Linked DNA regions of Homo sapiens. The protein of the gene in region 2 purifies or fractionates together with the protein of the main gene of each other region. This does not show direct contact. Each region holds a gene or a part of one and is shown on either strand. Other genes may lie near its edges.

The links.
Region 1: the proteins of FUT1 (region 2) and SLC9A1 purify together in Homo sapiens (affinity purification with mass spectrometry; 2 studies listed by BioGRID and IntAct, with this or other methods). This does not show direct contact.
Region 3: the proteins of FUT1 (region 2) and GOLIM4 purify together in Homo sapiens (affinity purification with mass spectrometry; 2 studies listed by BioGRID and IntAct, with this or other methods). This does not show direct contact.

What each region holds. Positions count from the first base shown.
Region 1 is NC_000001.11:27,144,994-27,148,642, reverse strand, and holds part of SLC9A1 (sodium/hydrogen exchanger 1), read left to right. Parts: intron 1-3,649. UniProt on the Homo sapiens protein: Electroneutral Na(+) /H(+) antiporter that extrudes Na(+) in exchange for external protons driven by the inward sodium ion chemical gradient, protecting cells from acidification that occurs from metabolism.
Region 2 is NC_000019.10:48,750,490-48,754,238, forward strand, and holds the start of FUT1 (galactoside alpha-(1,2)-fucosyltransferase 1), read right to left. Parts: upstream 2,153-3,749; 5' UTR 2,001-2,152; intron 795-2,000; 5' UTR 793-794; coding exon 1-792. UniProt on the Homo sapiens protein: Catalyzes the transfer of L-fucose, from a guanosine diphosphate-beta-L-fucose, to the terminal galactose residue of glycoconjugates through an alpha(1,2) linkage leading to H antigen synthesis that is an intermediate substrate in the synthesis of ABO blood group antigens.
Region 3 is NC_000003.12:168,029,880-168,033,528, forward strand, and holds part of GOLIM4 (Golgi integral membrane protein 4), read right to left. Parts: intron 2,974-3,649; coding exon 2,641-2,973; intron 158-2,640; coding exon 1-157. UniProt on the Homo sapiens protein: Plays a role in endosome to Golgi protein trafficking; mediates protein transport along the late endosome-bypass pathway from the early endosome to the Golgi.

The DNA.
Region 1 (3,649 bases), on a different chromosome or scaffold from region 2:
AGAATAGCATGTGGTATTGATGTGTTCATCATTTTACATCTAAGGAAATTGAGCCTTCGGTTGTGACCTGCCTGAGGTCACTTAGCATGCCTGGGACTAATCACTCAAGGCCAAACTCTCTCCTGCCAGGCCAACATGCTGGGTTCTTGTTGGATCAAGGGGGATGAGAGATTTAAAGGGGCTTTGAGGAGAGTCAATGACCAGACACATCCACATTGGTAACCTGGATTGTTGTCAGGAGGGACACCTGTTCCTCCTGTAGGCAGGAAGGGCTAAAGGGTCTGGGTGGTCTGGAGCCTTGACAGCTTTGGCTCAGCTCCAAGTTCTTTTCTACAACTTGAACATACCTGTATTTGCATGAAGGAGGATGAGGGCCAGAGTTGCACTGGGGACTGACATTCTCATAGCCCTTATCTGTGGAGCAGCAAATCTTTGAAATGGAGGACTTGTCCTTTCCCCCAGAATGTTGCATGCCCTCTGGGAGAGAAAAGGAGAGGCAGAGAAATGATTACAATGGAAAACATGTAGGATGGGGTGAAAGGTTAAGATACCTGAGATCTAGTCTCAGCTCTCTGTTGCCCAGCTGTGTGACTTTAGGCAAGGCATAACCTCTCTGAGCCCCTGTTTTCTTTTTTCTTTTTTTTTTTGATACAAGAGTTTCGCTCTTTTTGCCCAGGCTGGAGTGCAATAGTGCAATCTCAGCTCACTGCAACCTCTGCCTCTTGGGTTCAAGCAATTCTCCTGCCTCAGCCTCCTGAGTAGTGGGGATTACAGGCATGTGCCACCACACCTGGCTAATTTTGTATTTTTAGTAGGGATGGGGTTTTGCCGTGTTGGTCAGGCTTGTCTTGAACTCCTGACCTTAGCTGATCCTCCCACCTTGGCCTCCCAAAGTGCTGGATTACAGGCGTAAGCCACTGCTCCTGGCCTGAGCCCGTTTTCTAATTGATAATATAGATACTTAATTTTTCATTTTGTTTTGTTTTGTTTTTTTAGAGATGGGGGATGGGGATCTTCCAATTTTGTTGTCCAGGCTGGTTTTGAATCCCTGGCCTCAAATGATCCTCCCGCCTCAGTCTCCTGAGTAGCTGGGATTATAGGGATGAGCCATCACACCTGACTCCCTATTATTTTATTTTTATTTATTTTTTTGAGATGGAGTCTCACTCTGTCGCCCAGGCTGGAGTGCAGTGAGGCGATCTCGGCTCACAGCAACCTCCGCCTCCAGGTTCAAGTGATTCTCCTACTTCAACCTCCCAAGTAGCTGGGACTACAGGCATGCGCCACCACCCCCAGCTAATTTTTGTATTTTTTTCTTTTCTTTTTTTTTTTTTTTTTTTTTTGAGACAGAGTCTCGCTCTTTTGCACAGGCTGGAGTGCAGAGGCATGATCTCAGCTCACTGCAACCTCCGCCTCCCGGGTTCAAGTGATTCTTCTGCCTCAGCCTCCTGAGTAGCTGGGATTACAGGCACCAACCATCATGCCTGGCTAATTTTTTGGTTTTTTTGTTTGTTTGTTTGTTTGTTTGTTTTTAGTAGAGACAGGGTTTCACCATATTGGCCAGGCTGGTCTCGAACTCCTGACCTCAGGTGATCTGCCCGCCTCAGCCTCCCAAAGTCCTGATATTACAGGCATGAGCCACCGCGCCCGGCCTAATTTTTGTATTTTTAGTAGAGATGGGTTTTCGCCATGTTGGCCAGGCTGGTCTTGAACTCCTGACCTCAGGCGATCTGCCCGTCCCGGCCCCCCAAAGTGCTGGGATTACAGACATGAGCCACTGCACCCGTCCGGTAATTGGTGATATATTTGTTAAATACTTGTTAATTAGCTGCCACTTATTAATTTTTTATTTTGTTTATTTTTGAGACAGGATTTCGCTCTGTCTCCCAGGCTGGAGTGCAGTGGCGCAAAGACGGCTCACTGCAGCTTCAACCTCCCTGGCTCCAGGCAATCCCCCCACCTCAGCCTCCTGAGTAGCTGGGACCACAGGTACAGGTCACCACATCCAGCTAAGCTGCCACTTATTCATATCTAGTTTAGAGGTTGTGAAAGGTACTTGCACAGCTAGAAAACATTGGGGTTTAAGCCCAGATTTGTCTGACTTCAGAGCCTGTGTTCTTTTCATCCTCATGCCCTGATTCCAAGGGCCTTTTCAGTTTAGAAATTCAATTTTTCCCATAATCATTTTGAATTGGGGGAGATTTAAAGACTTTAGTATTTTGAGCCTTGGCTGCTTTCTGTGGATCACTTCTTGGGTTTGGGGAAAAAGCTGACCCACTCCAAGTCCCACTGTGAAGCAAATAACCTTTCTCAGAGGTGGCAGCATGCAGAAAAATACAGGAGTGACGGGGAACTAGAGCTGGGGGCCTGAGGCTGTCTCTGGGAATGCCAGCCCATACACAGCCTCCTTTCCTCCTCACCGCCTCTCCCACCTGCCCCCTTTCCTCCTGAGGCAGGGAGAGAAGGCTCGCTCAGCACACCCAGGACCTGGGTTATTCCTGAGTCATCCATCGCCTGTGTGGGCCTCATTTTGCAGCACTCGCTCCCCCTGCAAATGTCTGAGTCAGGCATGTCTCCCCAAGGTTGTCTGCACACACTGCACTGGGCCAAACTGTCTCTTTAGATGCCGATAAACATCAACTGATACTTTAAAGCAGCCCGTGATTATATGTTGGTATTTTAATCTTATGGGCTAATCTAATTTTAACTGAACTAAGTTTTGGGTTGGGCCTGGATCAGTGGGCTGCCCGCCTTCCCTGGGATCATGCTGACTTCATTTTCTTCCCCCTAAAGCTCATCTAATATACAGAGCCGATTTTGGGGTCTATTAGGCCAGACCTGAGCCCTGAGTTTTTATACTACTTGCCAAGAATCCAGAGTTCCCCCCAAATTACCCCAGCAAATTCTTTCCTGAAAAGATATGTCCTTAAGCAGTTCTAACTGAGATTCAGGATGAAAAGCTCTGTTCCTTCCCAGGCCCCCTTCCCTGTCCCTTGGGAAGCACTTACCCCTAAGCCCAGACTGGCCTTGCCACAGTGCTGAGCCTGTTTGAGACCAGGCCACAGAAGGCGGAGGAGTGATATCACAGCTGTGTGTTAGAGCCCACAAGTTCACTAAACCAATAAATAGCTAACACTTGCATAGCATTTGCTGTATGCCAAGTGAAGCTGGAAGAGGCTGTGTCTTTGCATCAGCCAGCCAGGACCAAGAGCAGCTCGCTAAGATCCTGGGTGGAAGAGGCAGGTCAGCTGAAATCAGCTAGCAGGCATTTAGCATATGGCCATCAAGGAACAAAAGAAGAGTAAACCCAGGCCCTGCTCTTTAGGAGCTTCCAGCCTGCCAGGGCTGGGCGGACTCCTGGCAGAGGCAAAGTACAGAGGGAGCAAGCAGTCCCTGAGGACTGGGGTGTTTAGAGAAAGCCTCTCAAAGGAGGTGGAACATTAGTCTGAGTCTTGAAGGATGGAAAGGAATTAGATAAGCAGGCTATACTTAGTACCAATTTCCATAAGAATGTAAGCCTCTTGAGGACAGGGACTTTGTTTGTTCACTTTCTTTTTTTTTTTTTTTTTCCTTTTTCCTTTTTTTTTGAGATGGAGTCTTGCTCTTCGCCTGGGTTGGAGTGCCAGAGTGCAGTGGCGAGATCTCAGCT
Region 2 (3,749 bases):
GCCGTTGCTGGTGACCACGAAAACGGGGGCTTCGTGCCGTGCCCGGAACCAGTCCATGGCCTGCCGGAGGTAGGCGCTGTCGCCCACCACACCCTTCCAGCGCTGAGGCATAACCTGCAGATAGTCCCCACGGCGCACGTGGACGCCGACAAAGGTGCGCGGGCGGTCCCCTGTGCGGCCCAGGCGGAGCTGACCCAGCACACTCTGCGCCTCTTCCCGAAGGTGGTCGTGCAGGGTGAACTCTCTGCGGATCTGTTCCCGGAGATGGTGGAAGAAAGTCCAAGAGCAGGGGAAGCCAGAGAGCTTCAGGAAAGGATCTCTCAAGTCCGCGTACTCCTCCGACATCCAGTCGTGAAGCTGCAGCTCCCGCCACGGCGTGCGGCTGTCCACTTCTGGGGCCAGCACGGGCAGGGTGATGCGGAATACCGGGGCCAGGGCGGCATGCATGGCAGGCAGGATAAAGGCCCGGCGGCCGTTGAGCTGGGCCAGAGCCAGCAGCGTGGCATACTGTCCCATCTGATTACCAAACCGGCCATTGGGGTAGACAGTCCAGGTGCCGGAGAGGGAAGCAGGGTGCTGGGGACAGGAAGAGGAGGCGTTGGGGCCCATCGCAGTACCCGGCAGGCAGAAGATGGCCACTGGGGGTGTCACCAGGCGGCGGTCTGGACACAGGATCGACAGGCCTAGGCCATGTGGAAAGCTGTCTTGATGGATATGGAGGAAGAAGATTACAGAGAGGACACAGACTAGCAGGAAGGCCAGGCAGAGCTGACGATGGCTCCGGAGCCACATGGCTGCAGGGGAGGAAAGGCGAATTAGCAAATGCTCTGAGGCTGAGGAGGGGAGGCTGAGGAGGGATGTGGGGTAAGGGAGGCGCCTGGGGTGCAGCACTCCTTAGTCCCAGGGAAAGAGGAAGTTAAAGGTTTAGACTCCTGGGGCTGAGGTAGGGAGAGCCTGAGTCCTAGGTTTCAGGGATGAGAGCCTTGGAATTTCGGGGCATGGGGACTGGAAGACAAGTGGTTTTCAAGATAGCCATGGTTTGGCTGGGCACTGTGGCTCACACCTGTAATCCCAGCATATTGGGAGGCTGAGATGGGAGGATCCCTTGAGCCCAGGAGTTCAAGATCAGCCTGGGCAACAGAGCACTCTTACAAAAAAATTTTAAAATTAGCTTGGCATGGGCCAGGCGCGGTGGCTCACACCTGTAACCCCAGCACTTTGGGAGGCCAAGGTGGGTGGATCACCTGAGGTTGGGAGTTCGAGACCAGCCTGACCAACGTGGAGAAACCCTGTCTCTACTTAAAATACAAAATTAGCCGGGCATGGTGGCGCATGCCTGTAATCCCAGCCACTCGGGAGGCTGAGGCAGGAGAATCGCCTGAACCCGGGGGGCGGGAGTTGCGGTGAGCTGAGATCATGCCATTACACTCCAGCCTGGGCAACAAGAGTGAAACTCCGTCTCCAAAAAAAAATAAATAAAATTAGCTTGGCATGGTGGCACATGTCTGTGGTCTCAGCTACACCGGATGCTAAGGCGGGAGGATCCCCGGAGCTCACAATGAGCCGCGATAGCACCGCTGACTGCACTCCAGCTTGCGCGACAGAGAGGGACCCTGTCTTAAAAAAAAAAAAAAAAAAAAAAAAAGAAAGTGGTCCAGGTTCCTACACCTTTCCTGAAGGAATCTCGAGTCTCCCCTCCTGTAAGTTCCGCTGATACTGGACTCTTCCACCAGCCTGTTTCTCAGGAGTACCTGTCTGTGAGGCGCAAAATCCACCACAGAGGTGGTGATGGGAAACGATAGTTCAAGTAAAACAAGAGAGGCTGGAGGGTCAGGAGCGGAAGGAGCATCTTGGTTCCTGGAGGAGTAATGGCTGGGGAGGTGGCGGAGATTCCTAGGGCCTTAGGAAGACCTGGAGAAGAGGTTGGGGGTGCACCTCCTGGTTCTGAAGGAGTTGTTCCTGGGTCCCAGGAACAACTGAGTGGGGCAGTCCCCACTTACCCGAGCTGCTTGCAGGTGGCAGATCCACAGTCCGCTTTTCGTGGCCGGAGCGCACCCTCCGCAAAGGCAGGCCACATCCGGCCGCCCCTGGAACGCCAGGCGTCCGGCTATCCGGCCCGGCAGCCCTCCCCTCCGCGCAGCCTGTCCGGACTGGCAGCGAGGGCTTGGGGAGGAGAGGAAGGAGAGGGCGCGGCCGGGAGTCTCGCAGCGTCCGCCCTCCCGGGCCGGGCGGATGGCTGGAAGGTGGAGCCCCGCCCGTCACTTGGCGCCGAGCCCCAGCGCCAGGGGCTAAGGCGATGGCCCCTGGGCCCACCGCTCCCCAGATCGGGGATGCAGGGGACCGCGCCCTGCCCCTCCGCCCCGTCATTGACCTGCGCGAAGGCTTCACCCAGGGCAGGCTACCTGGCTTCTGAGCAGCCGCAGCATCATTGCGTGGACCAGGAGACGGAGCGCCCAGTTGCAATGCTGGAGCCGGGAGGTCCAATCCGCCGCCCTCTCTCTTCCGGTGCCAGGGCTTAGAGTCGGCCCCCGACACCTGGGTGCTTCGAGCCTGGCCACGCCCCAGCGGCTGGGCAGGGCCCCCGCACCTGGTCCCGGCGAGTGGAGCGATCGTCCGCCCTCTGCCGCGTCCTCCTGGGGGATGGAGAACCTGTTTGCCAGGCTGCCGCCGGAGCGCGCGAGGGCCTCCAGCCTGCAGGTGCTCCCGCGCCCACCAGGGTCTCCGATCTCCCACACCCCCCGCCTCACCGTCCACACTCAAATTCCAGAATCCCAGCCCCTAGTCACTCCTTTTGGGGAATTCTAGGGTCCCGTGCCAAACTGCTACTTTCCAGACCTGCACTGCACGAAGGCAACCATTCCAAGGCTGGAGACCGGAGTGGAACAGGGTCTGTTTCCCACGCCGTCAGCGGGGGCCGTGGCTGCCGGCGCCAGAGACAAAGGCCTCTGCCCGCTTGTCACCTAATTAAAGCATTTTCTCTGGTCCAAGGCCCACCTCCAGCATCGCCAACCCCGAGCAGGGCAGGCTAACGTAGGGTCCAGCCCTACGGGGCTTTGCGGGTGGGTGTTCTTCCCCTGTGAGGAGAGGAGAGATTGTAAGAAATAAAGACACAAGACAAAGAGATAAAGAGAAAACAGCTGGGCCCGGGGGACCACTACCATCAAGACGCAGAGACCGGTAGTGGCCCCGAATGGCTGGGCGCGCTGATATTTATTGTATACAAGACAAGGGGGGGCAGGATAAGGAGGGTGAGTCGTCCAAATGACTGATAAGGTCAAGCAAGTCACGTGATCATGGGACAGGGGGCCCTTCCCTTTTAGGCAGCCGAAGCAGAAAGAGAAGGCAGCATATGTCAGCGTTTTCTTCTCTGCACTTATAAGAAAGATCAAAGACTTTAAGACTTTCACTATTTCGGGCGGGCGCGGTGGCTCACGCCTGTAATCCCAGCACTTTGGGAGGCTGAGGCGGGCGGATCACAAGGTCAGGAGGTGGAGGCCATCCTGGCTAACACGGTGAAACCCTGTCTCTACTAAAAATACAAAAAATTATCCGGGCGCGTGGTGGAGGGCGCCTGTAGTCCTAGCTATTTGGGAGGGTGAGGCAGGAGAATGGTGTGAACCCAGGAGGCGGAGATTGCAGTGAGCCGAGATCACGCCACTGCACTCCAGCCTGGGGGACAGAGCGAGACTCCGCCTCAAAAAAAAAAAAAAAAAGGCTTTCACTATTTCTTCTACCGCTATCTACTACGA
Region 3 (3,649 bases), on a different chromosome or scaffold from region 2:
GTAGTAAGTGCCCCTGCAGCCTCTGCTGGTGCAAAGCTTCCTGGTGTTCCCGCAGCTGCTGGGCCTCCTCCACCTGCTGCACTGCCAGTCTCTGCTGTTCCAACTGTTCCTCATAGGGTGATTGGAATTTGATCATTGGCTTGGCTGAAGGGTACACCTAGGGTGAAAAAGAGTTGGTGCAGAGCAAGAGGGGTTAGCTCCTCTGGGTTTTCTCTTCATTTGTTTCTCCTGACAAACTCAGGAGGCAGAGCTGGTTTATTAACGACTATTTGTCAGGTGAACTGTGATTATACATGAAGTCCAAAAACTCCTATTTCCCAACTTTCTCTGAATCACCCTTGGCTTTTTTAGCAGCTGATATTTCCAACTACTGCTATTAAGGCAGATTTTCAATGTGCTCCCTTCTCAAATGGAACAGAAGGGACAACCGAAGATAACAGTTTCAAACTGTAAAATTTATGTTCACAAGGCTCTGATATAAACAAGTAGTTGGTAACTTTGGTAACTTCACATTAACTGGGCAATCTGTGACCTTATGCTACGCCTAAGGCTTTTTCCATGAACAGTTAAAGACCGAGGGATGCTAATTAACTCTAGTAATGTATATACCAATCCCAGGCTAAGCATAGCCAAAAAAAAAAAAAAAAAAAGCCACATTCCAGGTAATAGTGGAAAAGCAGATATTCAATTTTTTTTCAAAGAAACTAAGAATGGCTGAGAAGATGGTGCCTTCTGATTAAAGGGAAATCTGATACAGCAATTCTTAAAACTCTGCTTCCCTGAGATATTATCTCACCCCAGTTATAATGGCTTTTATCAAAAAGGCAACAACAAACGCTAGTGAGGATGTGGAGAAAGGGGAACCCTCGTACGCTGTTGGTGAGAATGTAAATTAGTATAGCCAATATGAAAAACAGTATGGAGGTTCCTCAAAAAGCTAAAAATAGAACCACCATATGATCCAGCTATCCTATTACTGGGCACATATCCAAAAGAAAGGAAATTGCTATATTGAAGAGATACTTGCACTCTCAGGTTTATTGCAGCATTACTCACAATGGCTAAAACATGAAATCAACCTAAGCATCCATCAACGGATGAATGGATAAAGAAAATGTGGTACATATACACAGTCATAAAAAAGAATGAAATCTTGTCATACGCAGTGACATGGATGGAACTGGAGGCCATTATGTTAAGTGAAAAACTTCAAGCACAGAAAGACATACATTGCATATTCTCATTCATGTAGGAGCTTAAAAAAGCGATATTGATAAGATAGAGTGGATTGGTGGTTACTAGAAGCTGGGAAGGGGGATGAAGAGAGACTGATGAATGGTACAAACATATAGTTAGAGAGAAGGAATAAGACCTAATGTTTGGTAGTTCAGTAGGGTGACTACGATTAACAATAATCTATCTTATATTTCAAAACAGCTAGAAGAATTTGAATGCTCCCAAAATAAAAAAGAGATAAATGTTTGATGTGATGGGTTATCTAGGTTTGATGTGATGGGTTATCTAGATTTGATCATTATACATTATATGAATGTTTCAAAATATCGCCCATACTCTGAAAATATATACATATATTATGCATCAATAAAAAGTGTCTGTACCCCATTGAGCTACTACCCATCCTCCCTGCCATACCCCAACTAACAAAAGCACACACAATTCTCACTTAAGGAAAGAGGTAGAGGGTTGGGAAGTAAAGCTGGTGGGGAATTACTTCCCCTATTGGGGAAGGACACAAGACTGGAAGAAGCTTTCTGAGGTTAAGTTTGCAACTACCTAAGAGGGCAACTACAGAGGTCTTCACACCTGCTTAGCCTAAAGCCTCAAGCGGCTTGAAGTCTCAGAAAATCTGAGGCCGAATAAAACTTCAGAGTTATAAATAGAAGGTGATCCACACCCATGTAAAGGCCAGGTAACCTACTATTGAGACTCAGTTTAGAGACAGTAAAAGAAAGGCATCTAGCTGCACTAACTGTTGGTTTAAAAGAAGAAAGGGTAGAGTTTTCTTTTAAAGCATCATTTATAATAATCCTGGCCATTTTTTTTTAAGAAAGGGAAAAGTCTTACGTGTAAGTGGCGTGTCCAGTAAGGGATCCTGAGCAGAGGCTGTTTAGATATGCTCACCTAGTAGAATATCTCCAAGTAGTAAAATCAGATTTTTGATAATTAAATAACCACCTTGAAGGTGAATACAAAAGGCAACATACTGACAATAAATGAACAGGGAGAGGAGGACGCCTGATCATAGAAAATGAGATTTTTCTCTGCCTCAAGATGCTCAAGACAAAACTTGGGTACAAGCTGGGAAGGTGCCCCATCAGGTACTCACCTGTTCTACTCTATTAAGGTGATGTGAGAATGAATCTCTGACTGTGTACAACTGACAAAAAGAAGAATGCACACATACAACAGCTGTGCTCTCTCATCACCAATCATCTTTCTGAGGTATGCGAATAGCTATGCTATTAACATTACAAGAGAAAACTTAAATATGAGCATATAATGTTTAGTAGAATCACTCACATTTCTATTTTAGAGATTGTGATATATTACCTTAATATGTAAAAATAAAGCCAGGTTTTCCATCCCAGTACACCATACCAGAAGCGGGTGACTTCATACCTCAGCACGCGCGTGCCCTTCCAGGAGGTTGGCTGCTTCTCGTTGCTCATGCTGCTCTTTCCACTCCCGATCCTGCTCCTCTGGTGATGGATCGTGTTCCTCCTCAAGATGTTCTGCTTGCCCGACCTGCTCCATTTCTTCCTCCTCCAGGGCCTTTCTGTGCTCCTCTTCCACCTGATGCTCCTCAGGTTCTCTGCGTTCCACTTCTTGTTGGATTGGCTCTGGGGGAGCCTGAAATTCTGCCTCCTTATGGGTGGGAGCATAGAGTTTTGTGTCTTCTGCTCTTCCAGGAACTGCTTCATGGTTCTGCCACACATCATTATTTCGAGACACCTAGGCCAAGCACATCACTGGGAATGACACTCTTCCAATTTCAAAAGTAATGATGTAATTTCTTGATTTCCATGTCTATGGGGCATGGGGCTACAACAGAAGAAGGTGTCTAGAAATATATATAGTCCTGGCTTTATGGCTGCAATGGAGTCACTTAAGTTTCTTACTGTGTAATCTCACTTATAAAATAGACATAATATAAGCAAAACTTCATCTGTGAAGAATACAGTAAATAACCTGGAAAATAAAACCTCCAAGTAACCAATATCTCAGAAGTACTCTAATTCCTATTTTCCCTTAGAATAAAAAGGAACAAAACCTCAAACTTCAAGTGATGAAATGTTTACATAATTTTCTTCAATGTAAATTTTGTTTTCAGTAATTATTTGAAAAGAGAAGGATGAAATAAAATTGAGGAGTTGGGTTTAGTTTTTACTAGTTTGGTTTACTAATTTAAAAAAGAATGCCATTGGCCGGGCGCGGTGGCTCACGCCTGTAATCCCAGCACTTTGGGAGGTCGAGGCGGGTGGATCACGAGGTCAGGAGATCGAGACCATCCTGGCTAACACAGTGAAACCCCGTCTCTACTAAAAAAACACAAAAAATTAGCCGGGCGTGGTGGCGGGCGCCTGTAGTCCCAGCTACGCGGGAGGCTGAGGCAGGAGAATGGCGTGAA